Regions from separate parts of the Homo sapiens genome. Here region 1 is linked to region 2. Evidence: fine-mapped expression QTL. A gene starts in region 2. The other region holds a variant in brackets. All regions are shown on one strand. Distances are from middle to middle.

Region 1 (8,334 bases), 190 kb before region 2:
ACGGTGGTACTGTCATAAGAAAAGATATACAGAGGAATGGAATACACTTAAGTGCCCAGAAATAAATCCTTAACACCCACAATCAACTGCTTTTCAAGGAGAGTGCCAAAACAGTTCAATGGGGAGAGGCCAGTCTTTTCAATAAATGTTGCTAGGAAAAGTTGATATCCATATGCAAAAGAATAAAGTTCTTCCTACCTCAGATAGTATACAAAAATTCAATCAAAATGAGTCAAAGACCTAAATATAAAAGCTTAAACTATGAAACTCACAGAAGAAAACAAAGGCATAAATCTTCAAGATCTTGGATTAGGCAATGATTTATCAGCAGTGATACCAAAAGCACAAGCAATAAAAGGAAAAAAGAGGTAAGTTAGACTTCACTAAAATTAAAAACTTTTGTGCTTCAAATGACGCTGTCAAGAAACTACAAAGACAACACAGAATGGCAGAAAGTGTCTGGTAAGGACAAGTATCTAGAATATGTAAAGAATTCTTACAACTCAAAAATAAAACAACAGATAACCCAATGAATTTAAGGTGGCTAAAATAATGTGGAATTGTTCTTCTGGTTTCAGCTCCAACATGTGAAGAGTTTGGATGTTGTCACTCCCCTCTTCCCCACAAGAAAAAGGCTGAACAAACAGAAAATCAACAACTTTTCTTATATTCATCAGAGAATTGAGCTCATAGGGCAAACAACCAACCACCCAAAATCTGAGGAGACAGAAAATCATAGCTGAGATCGCCTTACCTGAAGCGGAAGCTGCTGGAGGCAGTGACCTGTAGGAACACTTAAGTGATAACTTTTGTCAAACTGCCAAAAGTTAAGTGTAGATCAGTTTAAGAGTTAAAAACTCCTTAATCCGGCAGAAGGATGGAAATAGAATCTATTTTTAAATACATCCAGAGTGTTGTTCTCCATAACAAAAGTCTGCTCCCCTGTATCAGACTCTACTGGACATGGGGAAAGCATTTGGCGACCTCCAGCCCCCACTAACCTTCCTGTCTCAGATAAGGAGAGAAAAATTAAAAAGGCTGAGAAATGCTCCTAATGATCACAGCCCAGAGACTCTACAAAACTGAGATTTAATCCTGAAATTATAGAACACTTCCCCTCCCCAAAACCTACCACCATACATCAGTATAATAATAGCTGACTATAACTGAGAGAGCTGCAGACACAGACTCTGTTTAACATGAAATTCTTAGGAAAACCCAAAGAAACCAGGAGAAAAACAAACAAACAAACTAGAAGAAGCTGACATCTCTGGCACCTAGAGCTATAGCAAATTTAACACAGCCCAGGTCCTACTCAGATTAACATAAAACCTCACACTAAATCCTAATTACCTCAATTCCTATTACACAATACATCGTGTCCAGCTTTCACAAGAAATTTTAAGCCTGCTAAATGGCAAGAAAAACTGTAGTCTGAAGAGACAAAGCAAGCATCCGAAGAAGACTCAGACATAGCACAGATTTCCGAATTATCAGACAGGAAATTTAAAATAACTAGGATTAGTATGTTAGCTACACTAATGGGAAAAGCTGACAACATGTAAGAACATATGGGTAATGTAAACAGAGAAATGGAAATTAAGACAGAGTCAAAAGGAAAGGCTAGAAATTAAAAAACAATAATAAAAGTAGCAAAAATGAAGGATGCCTTTGATGGGCTCATCAGTAGACTAGACATGGCCAAGAAAAGAACCAGTAAGCTTGAAGTTATATCAATAAAAACTTCCAACCTGAAATCCAAGCAGAACAAAGAAGCATGTGGGTGGGGGTCAAGGGGAGGCGCAGAATATCCAAGAAATGTAGAAGAAGAACTACAAACAGCCTAATGTGCATATTGAGAATATAAAAAGGAAGAGAAAATGCAGTAGAATAAATATTTATTTGAATTAATAATGGCTGAGAATTTTCTAAAATTAATGGCAGACATGAAACCAAAGATCCAAAAAGCTTAGACCACATAAAGGAGGATAAATGCCAAAAATTCTGCACCTAGGCATATCATATTTGAACTGCAAAAAAAACCAAAGACCAAGCAACTATCTTGAAAGAAGGCAGATGAGCGAGGTCAACTTCCAGCATGACAATGAAATGCTGAAAATTATTTAAAAAACAATTATTCAGAGCCTCTGGAAATGGTCCCAAGACCAAACAGCAAATGAAGAAACATCTATTTAAGAAAATCTCCAAAAACTCAGTAAGAACAGTCTGTGATATTTGGACCAAGACTGCTCCCTCCATTCACATTCAGAGCTCAGAGGTGGACACTCCACTCCCAAGTGCTGCAGCCAAAAACACAGGCTTCGTCCCCACCGGCTCCCAGCTAGAGAGCTTTCTTCTTGGGAGAGCAGGACTTCCACTTCTCATTCTGCCCCAGCTGCCTGTTGCTGAGTTTACGTCTGCAGCAAGTAATGCCAAGAGGTGGGGGCTGCCTTCTTGCATCCAGCTCTGACTAGTGAAACTGAAGCTCTCCCTTGGGTGTGGCATGCTGATAGTGCTGAGGGGGGCCCTGACCACCCTCACCTTGCCACTTCTATTCAAGGTGATATTGGAGGTTCTTGGGAGAGCAATTAGGTAAGAAAAATAAATACAGGTCACCTAGATGGGAAAGGAATAAGTCATACTATCTCAATTTGCAAATGACATGGTCATATGTATATATAAAATACTAAGGAACCCTCTAAAAAAAAACTATTAGAACTAATAAACTAGTTCAGCAGGGTTGCAAGATACAAGATCAACATATAAAAATCAATTGTATTTCTACACACTATCAATGAACAATCTGAAAATTAAGAAAACGATTCTATTGACAAAAGCACCAAAAAGAATAAAATACTTCAGAATATATTTAACAGAGGAAATGTAAAACTTATACTCTGAAAACTATAAATAATTCTTGAAAGAAACTTAAAAGATCAAAATAAATGGAAAAGTAACCATGTTCACAGCTTAGAGGTTTTAACACTGTTAAGATGGAAATACCTGCAGAGTGATCTACAGATTGAAAGCAATTACTTTCAAAATCCCAGCTGACTTCCTTGTAAAAACTGACAAGCTGACCTTAAAATTCAAATGACATACAAGGGACCTAGAATGATCAAAACAAACTTGAAAAAGAAAAACAAACTTGGCCAGGCATGGTGGCTCACGCTTGTAATCCCAGCACTTTGGGAGGCCGAGGTGGGCAGATCACAAGGTCAGGAGTTTGAGACCATCCTGGCCAACATGGTGAAACCCTGTCTCTACTAAAACTACAAAAAATTAGCCAGACGTGGTAGTGCACGCCTGTAGTCCCAGCTACTTAGGAGGCTGAGGCAGAAGAATCACTTGAACCCGGGAGGTGGAGGTTGCAGTAAGCCAAGATCGTGCTACTGTACTCCAGCCTGGGTGACAGAGTGAGACTCCGTCTCAAAAAAAAGAAAAGAACAAACTTGGAAGACTTATACTTCCTGATTTCAAAACTTACTATAAATTACTATAGTAATTAAGACTGTGTGGTACTGGCATAAGCAGAGATATAGATTAGTGGAATAGAATTGAATATCAGAAACAAACACATCTATGGCCAATTGAGTTTGATAAGGGTGCCAAGACTGTTTACTAGCAAAAGAATAGTTTTTTCAACCAATGGTACTGGGACAAATGAAGAGCTGCATGCAAAAAAAATGAAGTTCAATCCTTACCTCACACCATATACAAAAATAAGCTCAAAATGTATCAAAGAACAAACTGTATGTGCTAAAACTACAAAACTCTTAGAAGAAAATATATCAATAAATCTTCATGACTTTGGATTTGGCAATGGATTCTCAGATATGCAACAAAAGCACAACAAAAAATAGATTAATTGGACTTTATCAAAATTAAAAACTTTTCTACTTCAAATGGCACTATCAAGAAAGTAAAAAGACAACCCACAGAATAGGAGAGAGTATTTTGAAATCATATATCAGGTAATGGGGCTTGTATCTAGAATGTACTATATATGAAACTTTTAAACTCAATAACAAAAAAAAAAGCAAAAAAATTAAAAATGGGCAAAGGACCTGAATAGTCATTTTTCCAAGGAAGATATACAAGGATCGACAAGCTCATGAAAAGATGCTCAACATCACTAATCACTAGAGAAATGAAAATCAAAAAATAAGATACCAGTTCATACCCACTCGCATGGCTAGAATCAAGTTAAGTCAGATAATAACAAGTTCTAGTGAGGATGTGAAGAAATCGAGACCCTCATACCCTGCTGGTGGGAAGGTAAAACGGGGAACCTGCTTTGGAAGACAGTCTGACAGTTCTTCAAACAGTTAAACAGAGAGTTACCATATGACCCAGCAATTCCACTCCTAAAACAATAAAAGCATATGTCCACATAAAAACTTGTATAAAAATGTTTATGGCACAATTATTCATAGTAGACAAAAAGTGGAAACAACGCAAATGACCATCACCTGATGAATGGATAGACAGAGTACCTATGTGGATATCTATACGATGAAATATCATTCAGCCTCAAAAAAGGAGTGAGGTGCTAACACATGCCACAGCACAGACGACCCTTGAACACACTCTGCTAAATGAAAGAGGCCAGTCTTGTTGTAGAACTCCATTTATATGAAGCAAATCTACAGAAACAAGAAAGTGGATTAGTAGTTGCTAAAGACAGCTGGGAGGGGGGATGAGAAGACAGGGATGATGTATAAAGGTTATGGGATTTATTTTGGGGGTGATGAAAATGTCCCAAAATCAGTGATGTGCACATATCTGTGAATACAGTAAAATCCACCGAACTGCACACTTTAAATGGGTGAACTGTATTATTTGTATTTTATCTCAATAAAGGTCAGAAAAGAAAAAATAAAGAAGCCAGGAAAAAAACACCTTACCCAGAGAAGGGTCAGAACAAGAGTTCCATTGGATTTTGCATTAGAAATCACACATGCAAGAAGGGAGTTGGAATTTAAAATGTCAAAAGAAAAAAAA[C/AC]CCACCAACTTAGGATTCTGCGTCCAGCGGAATTATCCTTCAAAAGTGAGGGAGAAATAAAGGCTGTGTGACAAACAGAAACTGACTCCAGCTCATGAACGGCTGCAGGGCAGCTCAGAGGTGCCTCCCCTAAACAGCTCCTTTCTCACCAGGAGCCGCTCCCGGCTGTGTCCTTCCTGTGGCCAAGAATTCTGTCCTCTGCCCTCATGCAGAAAAAGAGTGTGGGCACTGGGGGTCTCTGAGAAGGAGACATGAGGACAACGCCTGCCTGGGCCATGGGAGCATGCTTGTGGGCAGAGGAAGGACTGGGAGCCAAGGGCTCAGGAGAGTACCTGGCATGTGCTGGGCATACTCAGGTTGGGAGAGAGGTCCCTTCCACCCAGCGGGAGAAAGGTCACCAATACTTGTCCCCCACCCCCAGGGAAGTGCTGACCAAGGGAAGGAGAGGTTGGCCCATTTGCAGGGAGCTTTGGGTTGCTGGTGCAGGCTATGCTGCCTCCAGGAGACAGGCTTCCTGCTTCCTGCTTTCCAGCAAGGATAGCAAAGGAAGCCCCCAGCAATGGATAGCGGGACAAGGGACGGAGAGAGTGTGCATCCCCTGGCTGCAGGTGGTGGAGCATACAGGAAGGCCAGCCCACCTGGGAAAGGTCCGGCTCCGCAGCTCCTTGATGAAGAGCTGGCTGCCATTCTGCACGGGCTTGACGTCAGGCGCTTGCCCCGGGCCGTGTTTGTGCCAGGTCCGCTTCTTCTTTACTGTGGAGGAGACCGGAAGCAAGGTCGGTCACACAGCGCAGCCCCAGCAGGGCTCCACAACTTCCCCTAAGAACCTTGGCCCACCCAGCCTACTAACAACTCCCAGCATTGCTGGGCTCATGCTCACCTCTCAAGACTGATGACACCCCCACCCTGCCATGCACATAGGGAGGAGTCAACCCCCTACCTCGACCTCGTGTCCTCTCCCATCCCACACCTCACCATGGATGGCACCAGTGTCCTCCATTCCCTGACCCAGAAGCTGGGGTCTCCCAGGACCCCTCCTCATTCAGGCCCTGAGTCTGCAGAGACCACCAGAGAGCCACCTCCTGAAAAGGTCCTCAGCCACGGTTTGGCCTCACCATCCCATGGCTTCCACAGCTGGACTCTGTCACTTCCCTACTGGGACCTCCATCACCCCAACTGCCACAGCCACAGACAGGGGCAGGTCAGGTCCCACCATCTTGTTCCGTCTCCTCCCCACCTCCCCAGGTGGTGCACATCCCCACTCCTCTGTGCTGGCCACACTCCAGCCCTCCCCTGACCACCGCCAACCCTGGGCCTGTCTACCCCACCTACTTCCTCACACTGCCCAGGTCACACCTTCTCCTGGGGCACGAGGTACACACACCTTGGACTTTTTACATGTGCATGTGAGCACATGTGCACACATTCCTAGTGGACTATGCGCCCATGCAACAATGCAGGCACACACATATGTACATATACATGCACACACCCCTACTGGACCACAAGCCCTATGCGCACACACACACCTCTACTGGACTTCAAGTCCCTAAGGGGAGGGAAGCAATTTCCTCTCCACCCCGCTAAGTCCCTAGCTCCCAGCCTTGTATTCAACCAGGCAGAGAAGAGCAGCTGGGGTAAGGGAGGCCACTGGGGCCTGGAGATGCCCTCCTCGGGGGCTGCTTGGCTGAGTCTGACACAGGCTGACCCTTGAGCAGTGAAGGGACTGAATTCAAGAGCAGAGCCAGGCAGGGCCCGTATTGTGCCCTTCCTTCACAGACAAAGGCAAGGTGGGGGGCGCAGGGGATGGGGGCCTTAGAAGGCCATGTGTCATCCTCCTGAGTCTCGGTGGTTGTGGGGACAAAGGGAGCTAATGACCACCCAGTGACAATGCCTGTCTCTGAGCAGGATCTGCTACCAACACGAAGGAGAAGGGCTGGGTGGGGCTGGGACCTTTTATTTGCAAAGAATCTTCGCATTGTGTTCAATCTCCCTGCCCACAATTCAAGTGGACATTATGGAAACTTGGCAAAATCCGACAGAGTCAAGGCCAGAAGCCAGGACTTCTGAGGGAAGCATCGGGCACAGATGAGCAACAAACAGGGTTCAAATCTGTTTTGGCCAATCCTCTTCCAGCTGTGTGACCTTGGGCAAATTACTTGACAGCTCTGTGCCTCGTCTTTACTAGAGAAAGGCTCACACGGGCCTTGTGGGGTGGCTGTGGGATGTAGGTTGGCACATGCACACTGTCTGCTCCAGACTCTGCTGGGCCTTTTCTCAGGGCAAAGCCACCTGGTGCGGTAGGTGCTTGTTCACGGGCAGAACACACTCACAGGCTGGCTTGGTGCTCCTAACAGACCCTGGGCTCATCCCTGTGTGTCCCCTATGCCCAGTACTGGGCCCAGCACACAGTGGGCACAGGGGGAGTGTCTGCGAGCAGATGAAGTCTCCCATCCTTGTCACACTGGCTGCTCAGCTTCAGAGCAACTTGGAAGGAGAGGTGGATGCATCTGCCTTCATAACTATCAACAGAGAAGGCTCAGTTCAGCCCATGCTCCTGCCCTCTTGGTGCCAGCCTGAGCCAGGCAATGCCAGGGCCATAGATAGCTCCAACCTGCCCTCCTGTTGCAGTTTGCAAGCACTCACTGAGTATCTTGGCTCCGTGCAAGGCTGGGGGTGCTGGAGCAGGTGTTACCCAAGCGATAGATGCTTGGGAGCCCCTGCTTCTTAAGAGCTGAGATGGGAAGGGGGCCAAGGCCGGCCCTAGAGGTGTGTGTGCTGAGATGTTCAGCCCAGAGGGTAAAGGAGTTGGAAAAAAGACACCCCCAGTGACAGCCCAGACCCTCCTGACCCCCCAACAATCCTAAGCCTCAGTGACTGTGAATACCATCACCCTCCTGCTGGGCCTGCTACTACCTGGGGAGGTGTGGATATCAAGGGAGCAAGGGGCTCCAGAGTTCACAAAGTGCCTTCCCTGCCTTGGAAGGCCTTGTGGAAATGGAGGCAGTTATATCTACTCCATGGGGGAGCCAAGTGGGACCTAGGGAGGAAACTTCCAGAGCTGAGCTTTCTGCACCAAGCAGAGCTCCCTGCCTGCCCTTAGGTCACCACCTGCGAGGAACACCGAGTGTGGGCTGGGCTCCAAGGAGAGGCTGCAATGAAGGTCCAGGACAGCGGCGGCTCAGGCAGGAGCGTGAGGCAGCCCCGTGGTTATGCAGCAGCAGTGACATTGCAGCTGGGAGAGGCCTCAGGGCTGGCTGAGGAGATCAAAGAAAAGGAGGCAGCCCACAGAGACAGGGTGCCACGGAGGGGAGCCAGCAGGGGCCCAGC
Region 2 (8,334 bases):
CATCAGAATACAGAACAGTTCCATCACTCCACAAAGATCTCTCCTGCTGTCCCCTTTATGTGTACATCCTTCCCCTCCTCTACTCTCAGCACCACTGAATTGGTCCCTATCACTATAGTTTTATAATCATCCCTTTTGAACCTGGCTTCTTTCACTCAGTATAAAACCTTAATTAAATATTCATGCAAGTTGTTACCTACACCAGCAATTCCTTCCTTATTATTGCTAAGTAGTATTCCATAGTATGGCTATACTGTAGTTTAACCATTCACTTATTAAAGGATACTTTGTTTCCACGTTTGGGCTATTATGAATTAAGCTGCTATGGACATTTGAGTACCAGTTTTTGCACAAACAAAAGTCTTCATTAGGAAAATACCCAGGAGTGGAATTGCTGGATCGTATGATAAATGTATGTTTAACTTTATAAGAAAGTGCCACTGTTTTCTGGAGTGGTGGTGCCATTCTGCATTCCCACAAGCAATGTGTAAGGATCCAGTTGCTCAGCATTCTTGCTAGCACTTGGTATTGCTCATATTTTTTTCTCTTTTAGCCATTCTAATAGGCATGTAGTGATATCATGGTTTTAAACGTTTTAACCACTTTATGGGTATCTTTTATTAAATGGTATACACTGTTTCAATCCCTTAAACAGAGAATGCTGAATATTAATTTTTATGACTCAAAATCATCCTTATAGAATAAACATTGTACTACCCTCAGGGACCAAGGAAGTACATAGGGTTGTTTTCCTTTTCTTAAAATAGCCCCAGAATTATGTTTGCTTTTTATAGCTTTTTAAATCTCTCTTGTCACTTCTTGCTATTAATGGTGCTCCTGCCTCTGGCAGACTCTCCTCTTCATCCTCTTCTCAAGCTGAGTTTAGAAAATAGATAACCAAGCTTGTTAGAATTACATATGAAAAGAGGCCAGTCCATGAGTGAGAGAGCTTAAAGGATTCTTCAGTGAGGAAAGCAAAAGCACCCCCCTACACCCGCCAACCCCCCACATCACTGTACCCAAACTTCCTGACATCTTGCTTGGTTGCTGAGAAATTTCTAGTAGCTAAATCTCTTAGGCACTTTTCAAAAAGGTAAGGTTGCCAGCTAAGAGACCACCAAGTAATTGAGTTATTACAATATTCATTTTGTGCAATTCGCACTATAATATGACCCTAGGTCAATAATTAAAAGCTTAGCAAAAGCAAAATACAGACAAAATTATCCCATTATCCCGTGTCCAGAAACCTAAGTGAAAAAGACGATCTTAAATGGAGCTTAAATCTAGTTTCCTAACACTGACACATTGGTCTGAATTCTGAGCACCTACTAGGTGTGCGAGGCATTCAAAGGGGTGCAAAGATAAAGAAACTGTAGAATTAAAAAGAACTCAACAGTTCTTTAAAGATACAGTGACCATATGCATACATACTGATTCTAATCCTAAGTAATATTCACAGTGTTCCCTTGAAAGTCGCTTGACTAGTTAAGTAGAGAGCTGTGCGGTTACCAAAGGCAAGTCAGTGCAGCTCATCCTGTCTTTTAAGTAGTCTTTTCCATCTCTGAACAAGACTAAACTATGAACACTTTTACGCTCTATTAGGGAGATGGATCGCTTCAGACAAATGGCAGCACCTTACTTCCCTGAGCGCCCCAGGCTCCGATTCAGAAATTAAAAGGCAGGCACTTCCTCTCACCCGAACTTCCCTGAGGAATGGCAGCTGTGTGTCTGCCAGGCGCAGGGGCCAATCGGGACTCTGCCGGCCGCCTCCACCCACGACTTAAACACCATCTCACCAATTGCAACCGGATCGTGGGTGGGACTTCCGCTATCATTTTAGGCTTAACTACCACCATCTCCTCGCGGGCAGTGGGGGCAACCGCGAAGACAGAATTTCACAAACTTTCAGCTCCAGCAGTTTCAAGGAAATGTCAAATGACAAGATGGAAGACCGAGTGTCAAGAGCTAAGACAACAAAAAGGCCCCCAAAATTTGTTTTCAAGAAAACCAATGAAAAAAGCAAGCAATCAGAACGTGAAGTCCAGGATCATGGATGTGCTTATCTTCACAGTCACTGCTGGGTCCTGAAGTTCTCCTCTGGCCCAGTGCCAGCTGCGAAGCCCTCTGCCAAAGGGCCAGAGGAGGCCGGTGATATAGAGCTCTGATTACCCACCCGTCAGGGCACCGCTGAAGGTCACTGAATACTTACTGTGCACCCGAAAAATAAATCCTGCGAGTTCACGCCCGCGTAGTTCGCCCCCTGATTTTGAGCGACTCCTTTCGCATGGGATCTACAAAACCGAACTGCCTTAAAGACCTCTTTCACACGGACGTGAAGTCACAGAACTGACAAAATCCCATCCTGTCAAAGTGCACGGGTCTTTGAAATCTAACACAAAAAGCCATAGAAAGATTCTCTAAACACCCTGTACTAAGAGGAACACGGACAGGGCACTGCGTTCTGAAGTAGAGGCCAGGGCACTGGCCCTTAGACACGTCTCGCTGTCACCGGGCTAACAACATTGGCAAGGGCGGCGGCAGCAGCACTGATATTTGCAGCCCCCAAGGGCTCTGGCGAAACCCCCTCTATTACTCTGTATCCTGCCTGCTTCCAAGATGAACCTGTTGCTGGGAAAGAACAGGCTAAATTAGAAAAGGGAGTATTTTGTCAAAGTTGAAGGTGAGTGATAGCCTGCCCGCCTCAAATAGGATGGGAAAAACTAAGGATATTGGGGATGATGACACTGTCGCCTCCGAATTCTGGTCCGGGGCTCTCTCCCAGCCCTCAAGTGTCCCCACGCGGCCGCGGACCCCGAACAGGGACAGCTGGAGACGGGCTTGGGCAGCGCGCGGCCTGCACCCGCGGCCATCCATCTTGCAGCCCGGCCCGGCCAGGCTATCCCGGGCAAGGGCTGGGGGAACTCGCTGCCCCCAGCGCCGCCACGGCCGGGCGACATTCTGCGCCCTGGGAAGGGGGATAGGGGTGCGGCGCGGCCCCGGTCCCCGGCCCGCCCGGATCCCCGGCCTCACCTTGACGTGGAAGCGGATGAGCGCCAGGCGGATGCAGTGGGCCATGCAGACGGGCGGCAGGAACCAGACCTTTGGCGGCGGGGTGCCCTTGTTCTGGACATGGCTGACGATCTGCTGTGCCGTCTGGCGCTCGTTGCCCTGCCGCTTGACCCACTCGTGCAGCCGGGCCTTCTCGAGCGCGCCGTTGAAGAAGACGAAGAGCTCGATGTTGCCGCCGAAGCAGGCCTTGGCCAGCGCCGCCAGGTAGCCAAGCATGTGGTTCCACTGGCCGCCGCTGACCCAGTCGGTGTAGAAGCCGCCGTAGAGGCGGTGCAGGCAGTTGTCGGCGTCCACCAGCAGGCGCAGCGGGGTCTGCGGGGGCCGCTGCCGCCCGCCGCCCACCAGGCTGCCCCGGGCCAGCTTCTGCAGCTCCACCGGCACCACGGCGCTCGGGCAGTGCTTCTCGATGTAGTCCTGGAAGCCCTGCACGCCCATGGCGGCGGCGGGGGCGCGGGCGCGGGTGCGGGCGGGGGGCGGCGGGGCCGGGGGTGGTGGGGCCGTGGCGCGCGGGCGGGCTGGCGGGCGGGGGCGGCGGCCTCTAGGGGGGACTGGGGCGGGTCGGGGGCGCGCTCATGGCCGCCGCGGCCGCCATGTGCTGCCGCCTCCCAGGGCCATGTCTGGGGAGGGACCTGCCGCCGCCGCCGCTGCCGCCGCTGCGAGGCCGAGGCCGAGGCCGAGGCTGAGGGCCGGGGCGGGGCGGGCGGGCGGCGCTGACGTAGCGGACCCGCCCGGCGCGGACGCCGCCCAGGCCCGCCGGCTAGCAGGCGGAAGAGGCGGCGCCGGCGGGACGCGGCTCGGGGCTCCCGGAGGCGGCGGCGGAGGCGGAGGCCCGGAGTTGGGCCGGGACGGGATCCGGGAGGCTTCTGAGCCGGAGCAGGCAGCGCCTGGAGGCCAGAGGCCGTTCGCCCGCCTCAGGCCGGTCGGCCGCCGCTCCCCTCCCCTGCGCCCTGTTCCCGGCAGGGCCAGAGAGGCCGCCGCCTCCGCCCGGTGGTTCTCGGGCGAAGGGAAGCCGCGAAGCAGGTCCTGGGGAAGAGCTCGCCTGCTCCTGAGGGAAGCAGCGATAAGATGGCGCTTTGAAGGGGAGCCGAGGCCGAGTCACTCTGTTCGTCGGGACGCCGCCTTTCTAACGCCGCCGTCGGCTCGCACCACTCTGGGCCTGCTGCCCACACTGACTGCGGGGTCCGGGAGAGCGGGATGCTGGCCGGCCGCGCCTGGCTTCTTGGAAAGAGCAGGAAGGAGCGCGAGAATGCAGTTCCGCGGCAGGTGCTCATCCCAGCAGCTTCGGGCTCTCGGTTGTGGTTTTTACACCTATGACAAATGACATGGCCAAACACACCATAATGTCTGAAGGTACAGGTAGCCCTAAGCGCCTGCTCGTCACGGAAGAGACTGTCTTGAGAGCACAGGTCTGTTGCAGCGTGGGAAAGCCTGCGTTACCACTGCGCAATGGCTAGACTGAAACGTGCGCCTTTGCAGTGGATCTCCCAGCTCTTCTGAGGGAGAGGGATTTGAATCTTGTTGCTTTAGTAGCATCTTCTGGAAGGAGGTCGTTTACGTAAATTCTGTTCCAAAGCTCTGTCGTAACTGCTTCTAAAATGAGGTTGATACTGTATGTATATTAGGCTTGCATAAAACATTTTCAAAAAGAGATTAATGTCTTTCAGAATATAAATTTAGAAACCCAGCACTCTAAAAGTTTTAAAGTGCCGCTTTTACTTACCTTCATCTCTCCATTTGTTCTTTTTTTGGAGAAACCTCTGTAGAGGAGCAGGATGCAACCGACAGGCTGTGGCCGGACAGCTGCTGCCCAGCACATGGAGCCTGCACGCGCACGGTTTGGCCAAAGAAGCCCCCATACTCCCGGTGAAAAAGGCAAGTTGGATTTTTCTGCTTTCTTTTCTGATACCCACCTCAAATGCAAGCCAGTATCATACGTACATAAATTAAATGCTGCTGGTATTTTAGGAAGTTACATTTAAAAGCAGGCTGACAAGTTATGCCACTCACCTATGCATAAAATTAGTCACAAAGCCAGGATGACATGTTATCTAAAAATAATACAGGCCAGGTGCGGTGGCTCACGCCTGTAATCCCAGCATTTTGGGAGGCCGAGGCGGGTGAATCATTTGAGATCAGGAGTTCGAGACCAGCCTGGCCAACATGGTGAAACCCCGTCTCTACTAAAAATGCAAAAATTAGGCGGGCCTGGTGGTGTGTGCGCCTGTAATCCCAGCTACTTGGGAGGCTGAGGCAGGAGAATTGGTTGAACCCGGGAGGCGGAGGTTGCAGTCAGCGGAGATGGCACCACTGCACTCTCTAGCCTGGGCAAAAAGCGAGATTCCGTCTCAAAAATAAATAAATAAATAAAAGAAATAATACAGTTAGCCATTAAATAACGAGCAAAATCCAGAAATATCCAAATTTGCTTTTATAACCCAAGGCAGGTTCACAAGGTGAGGAGTAGTAGTTTTTAATCACTCGTATTTTCATTTGTAGCATTGCATTCCGTGTATTTACCTTTTCTTTAAACACTCTTGCTTTTAATTTTTAAAAATGCATTAGTGCGGCCGGGCGTGGTGGCTCACGCCTGTAATCCCAGCACGTTGGGAGGCCGAGGCGGGCAGATCACGAGGTCAAGAGATGGAGACCATCCTAGCCAACATGGTAAAACCCCATCTCTACTAAAAACACAAAAATTAGCCGAGCGTGGTGGTGCGCACCTGTAGTCCCAGCTACTCGGGAGGCTGAGGCAGGAGAATTGCTTGAACCTGGGAGGTGGAGGTTGCAGTGATCACGCCACTGCACTCCAGACTGGCAACAGAGCGAGGCTCCATCTCAAAAAAAAAAAAAAAAAAAAATGCCAGTGCCAGTATCTGGAATTCTGGAAATAAATTTATTTTCACCTTATTATATTGTAGAGGTCTAAGGTTCTGGAGTCAGGCCCCCAATATCCATCTTATGATAAGTCTGTGCCCTTGCAAAAATATTTACCTTATTGAACCTTGGATTTTATCATCTGTAAAATCAACATATTAATAGTACTTAACCTCCCAGGTTGTTATAAGGATTAAATCAGATAACCTGTGTGCCTGCCACACAACAAATGCTCAATAAATGTTGGCTTTTGTAGTTATTTCCAGAAACTGTATTTGTCTAGACTTATACTCGAGAACATAGACCAGTTATTGTACTTTTGGAAAGTTTAAAATTCATTATTGTATCATAACACATAAAACTCAATTCTTAGTTGCCCTATTTAGCTTTGTGTTCTTTAAAAAAAAAAAAAAAAAACTTTATTTATTGAGTAGCTATTGATGGTGGGCAAAATGTTTAGCTGACAAACACTTATATACTCTGCATCCTTAACTCAAATTCAGGGGTTGGTTGAAGTTAAATTGCTTAAATATTGAGGTAAAAATAAACATCTGGGCCGGGCGCAGTGGCTCACGCCTGTAATCCCAGCACTTTGGGAGGCTGAGGTGGGCGGATCACAAGGTCAGGAAATCCAGACCATCCTGGCTAACACGGTGAAACTCCGTCTCTACTAAAAAAAATACAAAAAAAAATTAGCCGGGCGTGGTGGCAGGCGCCTATAGTCCCAGCTACTCAGGAGGCTGAGGCAGGAGAATGGCGTGAACCCAGGAGGCGGAGCTTGCAGTGAGCCGAGATCACGCCACTGCATTCTAGCCTGGGCAACAGAGCGAGACTCCATCTTAAAAATAAAAAATAAAAAATAAACATCTGTATTTAAAATTTAATAAAAAGTTATGTCTTCTTGGAGGTTACAATATGACAACTAATGGTTGGGGACTTTTTCTTTTTTTATTTTGTATTTATTTTATTTATTTTTTCTCCCCCAAGATGGAGTCTTGCTCTGTTGCCCAGGCTGGAGTACAATGATGTGTTCTCAGCTCACTGCAACCTCCCTCTCCCAGGTTCAAGTGATCTCCTGCCTCAGCCTCTGGAGTAGCTGGGATTACAGGTACACACCATCACACCTGGCTAAGTTTTGTATTTTTAGTAGAGACGGGGTTTCACCATGTTGGCCAGGCCAGTCTCGAACTCCTGACTTCAAGTGATCCACTTGCCTCTGCCTCCCAAAGTGCAGGGATTACAGGCATGAGCTACCGCGCCCAGCCTAATATCATTAATTAATATTTTACTTAGGTGAGGTATCTAACCACCAACAATAACAGATGAGTTTCCAGTTTTTCAAACAAGGTAATAAGAGACCTTAATGCTGCCCATGTAATCATTAGCAGATGTTGGGAGACCAGCAGACTGGAGCTAAGCAGGGAGTCTGCGATCATGGAAGAGAGCAAATTAATCCACACTAGGGATTCTAACCTATAATGTTTACCTAGCACCAGCCCTGTTAATTAATTGTCAATTTAAATTACCCAGAAGAACACACACATCTGTAGGCCTGCTTCATAAATGGTAGATCAGTAACTGACCACACTGCAGCCGTGTATCGGCAGTTGAGTTTTTTGGTCTTCAGGCTCTGCTATCTCTCCAGTACTATGAGTTATCAGCAGTAGCAGAGGGTAGGAGAGCTCCACAGAGATCAATATTCGGACTCTGGAGACCATGACAAAATACATTTCATATTCCAAACTAATATATAAACTACCTTTTTTTTTTTCTTTTCAGATTTCCAGAAGCTGTTCTGTCAATAACAAAGTCTCAAAGAAAACCACAAAACCACCAACACTAAGATCATTCTTGAGTCCAATTTGAAAAACTAGGGTCAAGTTCTGCAGAGGCATTGAAAGGACAAGAAACCACCCTGATACCCATCGTGTGAGGGAAAATGCTCTATTCACCATTCCTCAGCTTCTGCTTCTGGTTTCAGAGTTCTCTCTATATTGGAGGGTGTTTTAAAGCTAGAGTGGTCTTTATCCACTTTTATTAACACATCTGAATGTGAAGGTCAAGAGAGGAAAGTGATATGTCCTAAGTCAGAGTAGAGTCAACAAGAAAATAAGACAAACAGCGACTGAGCCCCTGGTGTATACTGGGCATTGGCCAGCTACTGGGGATATGGAGATGAAGAAAACATAACCCTTCTTCAAGGAGCCCAACCTACCAAGGTAGACAGACATATAGACAAATAGATACTTGCATAGAAAAAAAGAGGAAAAGGGGATCAGTGTGACCTGTGTAACTAAGTACCCTATAAACCCTCCTGCAACAGATCATATTGCCCTTTATAGTGGGGATGGTAATCCCATCTGAATTCCACAGGTACTTTGCAGTCATACC

Evidence for each region. PIP is the estimated chance that this variant, and not a neighbour inherited with it, causes the effect.
Region 1: its variant is the best candidate, but not a certain one, in a credible set for the expression of FAM120A in whole blood (TOPMed, PIP 0.52).

What each region holds. Positions count from the first base shown.
Region 1 is chr9:93,633,834-93,642,167 of GRCh38, reverse strand. It overlaps PHF2 (PHD finger protein 2), which reads right to left. Exons shown (of 22, transcript NM_005392.4): 3 at 5,643-5,757. Among named protein-coding and RNA genes, the nearest start is that of MIR548AU, 43 kb to the right of the region's middle. RefSeq lists an enhancer at 5,971-6,700. The variant C/AC (reference allele first, on the strand shown) is at 5,005.
Region 2 is chr9:93,447,086-93,455,419 of GRCh38, reverse strand. It overlaps FAM120A (family with sequence similarity 120 member A), which reads right to left and starts at 3,735. Exons shown (of 18, transcript NM_014612.5): 1 at 3,031-3,735. The coding sequence starts at 3,504. It overlaps FAM120AOS (family with sequence similarity 120 member A opposite strand), which reads left to right and starts at 1,839. Exons shown (of 3, transcript NM_198841.4): 1 at 1,839-3,273; 2 at 4,821-4,941; 3 at 7,723-8,334. The coding sequence starts at 2,711. The coding sequence ends at 7,809. RefSeq lists enhancers at 1,639-1,933, 1,997-2,126, 3,706-4,255 and silencers at 2,846-3,025, 3,326-3,455, 3,596-4,125.